Regions from separate parts of the Homo sapiens genome. Here all the other regions are linked to region 3. The links come from fine-mapping of genetic effects on plasma protein levels. A gene starts in region 3. Each other region holds a variant in brackets. All regions are shown on one strand. Distances are from middle to middle.

Region 1 (2,719 bases), 81 kb before region 3:
GGCTTCCACCAAGGAACTCCCCAAGCCATTCAGAAGTCCCAGGTGAGTGCCCCCATTTGCGTGTGTACTTTAAAATAAAATCCTAAAGCTCTTAGAATTTGAATGCATCTTAAGGACAACTTCACCTCTTAAATTCTTACATAGGTTGAATGGATCCCGATAAAGTTAACCTTTACAACTACTCTTTTTTTTTTTTTTTTTTTTTGAGATAAGAGTCTTGCTCTGTTGCCCAGGCTGGAGTGCAGCAGCACAATCTCGGCTCACTGCAACCTCCACCTTCTAGGTTCGAGCGGTTCTCCTGTCTCAGCCTCCCTAGTAGCCAGGACTACGGCGTGTGCCACCATGCCTGGCTAATTTTTTGTATTTTTAGTAGAGACAGGGTTTCACTGTGTTAGTCAGGATGGTCTCAATCTCCTGACCTCGTGATTCTCCCGCCTTGGTCACCCAAAGTGCTGGGATTACAGGCGTGAGCCACCGCTCCCAGCCACAACTACTCTTAAATAGGCAGTATTTTCTTATGCAGGCAAACATTCCTGTTTTAATCATCCTCCTATCACTAATTTAAATAACAGGTCCTGGCCTGGCGAGATGGCTCACGCCTGTAATCCCAGCACTCTGGGAGGCTGAGGCGGGTGGATCACCTGAGGTCAGGAGTTCGAGACCAGCCTGGCCAACATCGTGAAAACCCGTCTCTACTAAAAATACAAAAATTAGCCGGGCGTGGTGGCACGGGCCTGTAATTCCTGCTACTTGGGAGGCAGAGACAGGAGAATTGCTTGAATCCGGGAGGCAGAGGTTGCAGTGAGCCGAGATCGCACCACTGCCACTCCAGCCTAGGGGACAGAACGAGACTCCGTCTCAAAAAAAAAAAAAGGTCTGGGTTACCCTAACATATCAATTCATCCTCAATTTATTCTCTCCGTAGATTGTTTTTTAATAAAAACAAAACAAAGCATGATTCCTGGCATATGGGAATTTCAAAGGATAGCAACTGTGTGGAAAAGGTCTATTCCACTAAAACAGCATAAATGACGTATAAACCCAAGAAGCTGATGACTGCATATGAAACAACCAAACCAAGAAGCAAAATATGGTCTATGGAGCACAGTACTAACCCGGGAAAACAAGCTTTACTCCTGGCTCGATTATACACCTGCTGTATTTTAATTTTTAACTCAATGTTGAGCTTATTTAAATAAATAAAACATGCTACTTAACCACAATTTCAAAAGGAAAACAAAGTCACAAAAGAATGCAATAAATTACACAATTGGACTAACATATTAGATAATTAAAGGTGATTCTATTCCCAAGTCTAACTATCAATCAACGCTACTGCATTTAGTTACTCTATGCAATTTTATTGAGGAAGAGGGGTGGCAGGAATATTTTGCAGGGTTCCAAAAGGAGACATAGAAAGCGTGCCTACGAAGAGGACTGCAGTGAGGAGCTACACATTGAGATTACATACAGTGGACTGGACAACTTTGGTTAGGACCAGGCTGTTTAATTTCTTCATAAACTTAACATAGCTTCCTTCCTAAAAACAGGTTAATCCAGACTTTCTTCTCTCCAAAACAACCCGAACTGATACATTAACTGCTGCAATGAACTATATTAAGGCACTAGAATATTTACGGAAAAGCAAAAGACTCCCGCAATTCAACGGGATGCTTTTTAGTGAAGAAAGAAAACTTAAGGACCGAATAAATTTAAATATATGCCTTGTTTAACTTCCTTTCCCACCTATGAGGACTTGGTTTTTAAC[T/C]TTCCTAGTTGATCGAAACTCAAAGTATGAAGACTACGTATGCGAATGTTTACTTAACGCTGAACTCGGGGCTACAGGAAGTCTCCTACTAAACAGTAGTTACATTAGGCGTAGATATTTATAAACCATCTGCAGCAAGTGACCCAGGATTCAATTACAACATCAACCCTCATATTTCATCGCATGGGCAAATTACCAGTCGAGTCAAGAATAAACTCATTCTGCCCTACTGGCGCTCTAGATCGAGTTGCACAATCCTGGGGCAGAACCGCCTTCACCTAGCCCTAGAGCATCAGGTACTAAGTTAGTGTGAGGACATTTTAAAGCGGGAGGGAAACTCAAGGGACTTAGCCCATACTCCCAAATTCAGAAATTTGTCACGTCACTTGAGATCAGAATGAAATTTAAGTTTCAGTCCCTTTGAGATCTCTGAGCGCACAAAGTCAGGCTGCTATCACTCGGCTGGGGAGTCCGAACCCGGCTGGATAAAAACTACTTGGTGCGGAACTCGCATCTTTTCCGCCCACCGTGGGGGGGCCGCACCGGTCGGGTCCGGCCAGGAACCCGGGCGCGAGTTTGGGGGCGCAGCGGGGGCGGCGAGCGCGCGTCCCCCCGCCCGCTCAGGCAGCGTAGAGGTGCGAGCAGCTCAGCCAGCCTTGCAGAGGGAGCTCTCGGCAGCTCTGGGGTCCCTCTGCTCGCAGCCGCTGCAGCGCCGCCTGCGCCACTCGGCGGAGACGGAGACCAGCGGCGGCGACGCGCGGACTGGGAGCGACCGCCGAGCAGCCAAGCAGCTGGGAAGGCACGCAGGCCGGCAGGGTAGGTTCCGGGGACGGGGCTGGCTGGAGGAGGGGCAGCCCGAGACGCGACGGCCAGGGCCCGACACCCATACGGCACCGGGACCTGGCTTAGCGCGCGGCGGCAGTCGGTCCGAACCCTTAAGCTAGGCGGGCG
Region 2 (2,756 bases), 340 kb after region 3:
ATTTTGTGACTCAAGAAGAGGGTCCTATGCTTTACAAAAGGGCAGCTCTCCAAACAGCTTAATCTGAATGATTTCCAAGGCCTCCATCTGTGGAACATGTTTCCCTCAGAAAAGAAGTCAACAGGTACCAGGGAACCTAGTGTTCCTGAGCAATCCTGGTTGCAGGCAAGGTCTACTTTGGAGTACCAGAGCCTATGCAAAACAACCCTGGGCAAAGACAGCTGGGGCTAGGTTCCCCAATGTCCAGGCATGGTTCCAGCTGCATGTGGACACACAGATCTGCAAAGATGCACTGCCCACCCCAATAGAAATGAAGGGCTTCTCTGAGGAATCACAACTTACCACTCCAAGAGTGAAGTAGTTAAAAAAGTAGTCATTACACTTCGATGGAACTTGTTTATGAGGGGAAGGAGAATGAATTTTCATCTGTAGGGAAAAAATAACCATAAATTAAAATCCATCCCTCTAATATAGTTCTGGATTAACTGAAAGTCTACAAATTGTGTTCCATGTGTAACATTAAGCTGCGGAACAAGCAAGAGTGGGGAGTCTCAGCTGCTGGTGCTGACCAATCTAGGAGGAGAGGGGGCCAGCTGTCGTTGACTAGGGACTGTCTTGGTCTCTAAGGAAAGGTAGGCACTATGGAGAGGGACAGAGTCAGGGTAATTGGACTACAGGGGTTAGAAAACAGTTTTCAATTTACTTTACCATTAGCTTTACTTAGAACAAGTTCTATGGGAAAATAGCAAACAGTTTATACTCAATATTAAATTAGTGTTGATTAAAAAAAAGGAGGAGACTGCAACATAATTCCCCTACCTTGTCTTCTGATTTATAGAAGACTTTGTGTGGAGAGCCAAGCATGCTAAGAACATCTTGGCAGGAATCACCAAAATACACTGAACGTTCAAATACCCGCATCTTGGCATCTGCTAATAGGCCAGGTCCACAACCTGCAAAAAACAAGACAGAGAGGTTGTCAGGTTATGGTTAGGACCAGAGACCCTCTCTGGGGGCCCCAGAGAAGCTACTGGCTGCATGCTACATTATTAGGTCTGGCAAGGGGCAAGACTGCATGCAATCAGAAACATCAGGTCACCAGGGCTTAAGACTGTACAAGAGATCGCTATTCAAAATAATGCCAGGGACTTATTCAATCCCCCACATGTGACATGAAGCTCTGGATACTTCATTCACTTATTCATTCACTACTTTATTGCCTACCATGGGCTAGGACATTGTGCTAGATGTTGAAGAAACAAAAGTGAACAAAAACAGTGCAGTTTCTGGCCAGACGTGGTGGCTCACGCCTATAATCCCAGCACTTTGGGAGGCCAAGGCGGATGGGTTGTTTGAGCTCAGAGTTTGACACCAGCCTGGGCAACATGGTGATACTC[C/T]GTCTCTACAAAAACATACAAAAATTAGCTGGGCATGGTGGTGGGTGTCTGTAGTCCCATCTACTTGGAAGGGTGAGGTGGGAGGATCACTTGAGCCCAGGAGGCAGAGGTTGCAGTGAGCCAAGATCACACCACTGCACTCTAGCCTGGGTGACAGACTGAGACAGTCTCAAAAAAAAAAAAAAAAAAAAAAAAAGGCAGTGCTGTTTTTTCTCCATAAGCTCCATCACTGGAGCTTATGTGTGCTGGAGAAGACCTTAATCAGATCATCACACAACTATGGTAAGATGCAAGGATTTATGTTAAGAGGTACTTCTTGGCCGGGTGTGGTGGCTCTTGCCTATGATCCCAGCACTTTGGGAGGCCAAGCGGGGTGAACTGCTTGAGCTCAGGCGTTCAAGACCAGCCTGGGCAACATGGTGAAACCCTGGCTCTACAAAATATAATATAAAAATTAGCCAGGCGTGGTGGCACACTCCTGCAGTCCTAGCTACTTGGGAGGCTAAGGTGGGAGGATCACTTGAGCCCAGGAGGCAGAGACTGCAGTGAGCTAAGATCACACCACTGCATTCCAGCCTGGGTGACAGAGTGAGACACTGTCTTAAAAAAAAACTACAAAAGTACTCTCAATGGTAACCCCTAACCAGAGACACTGAACCTGTAAAACTGCTCTATCAACAAGTAGAGTGAAGCATGCATTACTTGTCTCCCTAATTCTACACAAACACCTGACAGAGCCCTCCAACCCAGACAAGAGCCATTATCACTCAAAAGGGACAAACCAGCTAAGTGGAGGAATAAAAGACCTTCTGATTTGCCAAAAGTTTATTCTTTGGGAAGAATCTTTAAGCTCTGACTTTTTCTAATAAAACATTTCAGAAATGATTACAGTTAATGACACACACACAAACACACAAATGTAGAAGTGGTTGTGGCACAGTAATAGATACACCAACAGTAAAAATTTCCCCATTTTGTGGAGGGGGAGACAAGGTTTTTGCTCCCACCACCCAGCAAAAAAAAAAAGGAAGCCAAGAATCTGAGAAGGATTGTAATTCTTGGTGCCATGATAATCACTGACACCATCTTACTCAGCACAAGGCTTTACAGTTGTCAAAGTTCTCTCATGTGTAACAATCCATTTTTTATATGCAGAAGCTTCAGAGAACCCAAATCTGAAATAACTAAATACTGAGTTCAACTAACCCAAGAATCTCTATTCTCAGCAAGTATACACTGAGGGGGAAATAAAGGCTTAGGCAAGCCTTGGGTGACCTATAGAACCCACCAAAAGTCCTGTCAAGCTGGACTCTGGGCCCAAAGTATCCAGTGGCCTAACACATTTCTTCAGGCACCAGA
Region 3 (2,756 bases):
AAAATGCTGGGATTACAGGCGTGAGCCACCGTGCCTGGCCACCCTTTATCTTCTTTTCTTTTTGAGACAGGATCTTGCTCTGTCGCTCAGCCTGGAGTGTGGTGATGCAGTCATAGCTCACTGCACTCTTGAATCCCTGTGCTCAAGCCATCCTCCCACCTCAGCCTCTACTACAGGCATGCACCACTACACCCAGCTATTTTTTTATTTTTTGTAGCAACGGGGTCTCACCATGATACCCAGGCTGGTCTTAAACCCCTGGCCTTGTGATCCTCCCACCTTGGCCTCTCAAAATGCTGGAATTACAGGTGTGAGCCACCATACCTGGCCCCCTTCATCTTTTTTCCACTGCCTTGTGCCAACCCAGTTTGTGCACTGGGGCCTTGCGATCCTCTCAAAGCTGATTCAGCCTGCATTCCTTTCCCAGATGGACACGTGTGTGATAAACAGCTCTGCAGTGGGGTGAGGGAAGGCAGGGGCAGCAGGGTCCTGTATGTCCTGCCATCTCCACAAAAGGGCAGTCCTTACCCCAGCCTTGTGCTGATGAGACCAGGCATAGACAGTCCTGACGACACAGGGCGGAAGGGAGCAGCCATTAGTGCTAATGAGGCAGGCGGCCTGAAAGCTTTGTACTCTGCAGTGGCTCGCCCACCCAGGGAACAGTTCGTTCTGTTTCCTTGGCTTCCAGGAACCCTAGGCAGAAAGGGGTTTGGGGACAGGAGCAGGAGTGGGCGGTCTTGGAGAAACCTGGAGGGAGAAAGGGAGGGGAGGACCAGAAATGTAGTCAGGAGGGCCTAGGATTGGTTAGGTGGGCTTTTCCTTCCCCTTTCCCTCCAAAGAAACCCAGGTTCTGGTTCTGCACCTACCCCTGCCCAACAGTGGCCATTGGCCCATCACCCGCTCCAATGTCCTTGACCCGAATTCTTGGAAGCACAGGAAACAACATGCCACATAGGGGTTGAGTAAGCATCTCTGGGGCCACAAATTAAATTAAGCTTTCAGGGCCGCCTGCCTTGTTATTGCTAATGGTTCTAGCCCTGCTCAGCTCCTAGGTCCCTGTCCTGTGGAAATTTGTGGACCCTGGGCACCCTCTCTTGCTCCCAAATTTTAATCGGCTCCTGGAAACCTCACCCCAAATTGGAGATAGGCACTCCTCTTGTAGAACAAAAGGCTCAGGTTCAGGGAGTGAGGGCCTGAACTGTGCCCCCACCCTCCAGGAAGGGTCCTTCACGGCCTGGCTGCAGGGATCAGTCACGTGTGGCCCTTCATTAGGCCCTGCCATATAAGCCAAGGGCACGGGGTGGCCGGGAACTCTCTAGGCAAGAATCCCGGAGGCAGAGGTGAGTCCTCAGGTTGGGCAGGGACTCCTCCTCTCTGTGGGGTCTCTATCTGGGCACCTAGAGGGGACTCCAAGGATAAGGAGGGACTAAGTGGTACATCTTCCTGCTGAGCCAGGCCATGCTGACCGCAGCGGTGCTGAGCTGTGCCCTGCTGCTGGCACTGCCTGCCACGCGAGGAGCCCAGATGGGCTTGGCCCCCATGGAGGGCATCAGAAGGCCTGACCAGGCCCTGCTCCCAGAGCTCCCAGGTCAGTGTGAGCAAGGGTGGGACTGGGCGGGGCCTGAATACCCTCTGGCCACAAATAGTCTCCCCTGGCATAAACCCTCTTTCTCCCTTCCCAAACCCTCCCCTGGGAGGTGGGTGCTTTGTGCATGGGGGTTCCTGCCCTCACATCCTCTGCCCCAGGCCTGGGCCTGCGGGCCCCACTGAAGAAGACAACTGCAGAACAGGCAGAAGAGGATCTGTTGCAGGAGGCTCAGGCCTTGGCAGAGGTAACTGCTCAGGGAAAAGGGTAAGGTGGTGGCCCTTGGGAGGGGGCATTGGGTATTAGCTCCTCTCCCCAGCTCCAAACTCCCTCACCAGCGACGACACTACCGACCACCCCTTCCCATGCTCCACTGCCATCCTGCACAGGTTGGGACAGGTAAGATCCCTGGATCTGTCTTTAGAGGCCTGTGCTGGTTCCCCACCCCTGCAGGTACTAGACCTGCAGGACCGCGAGCCCCGCTCCTCACGTCGCTGCGTAAGGCTGCATGAGTCCTGCCTGGGACAGCAGGTGCCTTGCTGTGACCCATGTGCCACGTGCTACTGCCGCTTCTTCAATGCCTTCTGCTACTGCCGCAAGCTGGGTACTGCCATGAATCCCTGCAGCCGCACCTAGCTGGCCAACGTCAGGGTCGGGGCTAGGGTAGGGGCAAGGAAACTCGAATAAAGGATGGGACCAACCCCAAGGCTGTGGTTATTTCAAACGTGGCCGTCAAAGGAGGGAGGGTTCATGGAGGGGGTGGGAGTGTCACCAAGCCAAGAAACCACACATACTCTTATCCCAGGGCCTGGGCTACCCTATCATAGGAGGCACATACACGGGCGCTTTTAGGGGTCCTGGTGCCCCTGGGAAAAATAGAGAAGAGCCGCACTCCAGCTTTCGAAAATCTTGTACAGCAAGTGCGGGGAACGCAGGACGCAGCGTGGCACAGGGGCTATCACTCCTGGCTAACAAATAAGCCTTAGGCTCCAGGGCTTGCTGCTACTTCCACGCAAAGCCTGCCCCTCATCCTGTTACCAGAGGGAAGGCCAGGAGTGTGCGTTGTTCAGGTCCTTAGCGTTTCGAACAAAGAATTGAACAAAACCCAGAAAGTAACAAACGAATGACACACAGGAAGGAAGCAGACAGCTGGGATTTGTTAAAGCGAGAA

Direction of the effects. Positions count from the first base shown, and alleles are read on the strand shown. Strength reflects both the effect of a copy and how common the allele is.
With allele C in place of T in region 1, the plasma level of the protein whose gene starts at base 1,310 in region 3 is lower (weak association).
For the plasma level of the protein whose gene starts at base 1,310 in region 3, allele T in region 2 goes with a lower level than allele C (weak association).

The links. PIP is the chance, under the fine-mapping model, that this variant and not a neighbour inherited with it causes the effect. The UK Biobank Pharma Proteomics Project read protein levels with antibody pairs (Olink). The fine-mapping took linkage between variants from a reference panel, not from the people measured, so its PIPs are less certain.
Region 1: its variant is fine-mapped to the plasma level of the AGRP protein (UK Biobank, PIP 0.93).
Region 2: its variant is fine-mapped to the plasma level of the AGRP protein (UK Biobank, PIP 0.90).

The regions. Positions count from the first base shown.
Region 1 is chr16:67,563,160-67,565,878 of GRCh38, reverse strand. All of the region lies in intron 1 of CTCF (CCCTC-binding factor), which reads right to left. LOC124903703 (a long non-coding RNA gene) reads left to right here and starts at 2,429. Exons shown (of 2, transcript XR_007065094.1): 1 at 2,429-2,584. RefSeq lists a silencer at 2,282-2,381 and an enhancer at 2,135-2,719. The variant T/C (reference allele first, on the strand shown) is at 1,769.
Region 2 is chr16:67,138,181-67,140,936 of GRCh38, reverse strand. PHAF1 (phagophore assembly factor 1) reads right to left here. Exons shown (of 16, transcript NM_025187.5): 9 at 820-953; 10 at 343-426. Among named protein-coding and RNA genes, the nearest start is that of B3GNT9, 11 kb to the left of the region's middle. The variant C/T (reference allele first, on the strand shown) is at 1,398.
Region 3 is chr16:67,482,101-67,484,856 of GRCh38, reverse strand. It overlaps AGRP (agouti related neuropeptide), which reads left to right and starts at 1,310. Exons shown (of 4, transcript NM_001138.2): 1 at 1,310-1,340; 2 at 1,456-1,588; 3 at 1,747-1,832; 4 at 2,039-2,286. The coding sequence starts at 1,459. The coding sequence ends at 2,221. ATP6V0D1-DT (ATP6V0D1 divergent transcript) reads right to left here. Exons shown (of 4, transcript NR_184227.1): 2 at 529-747.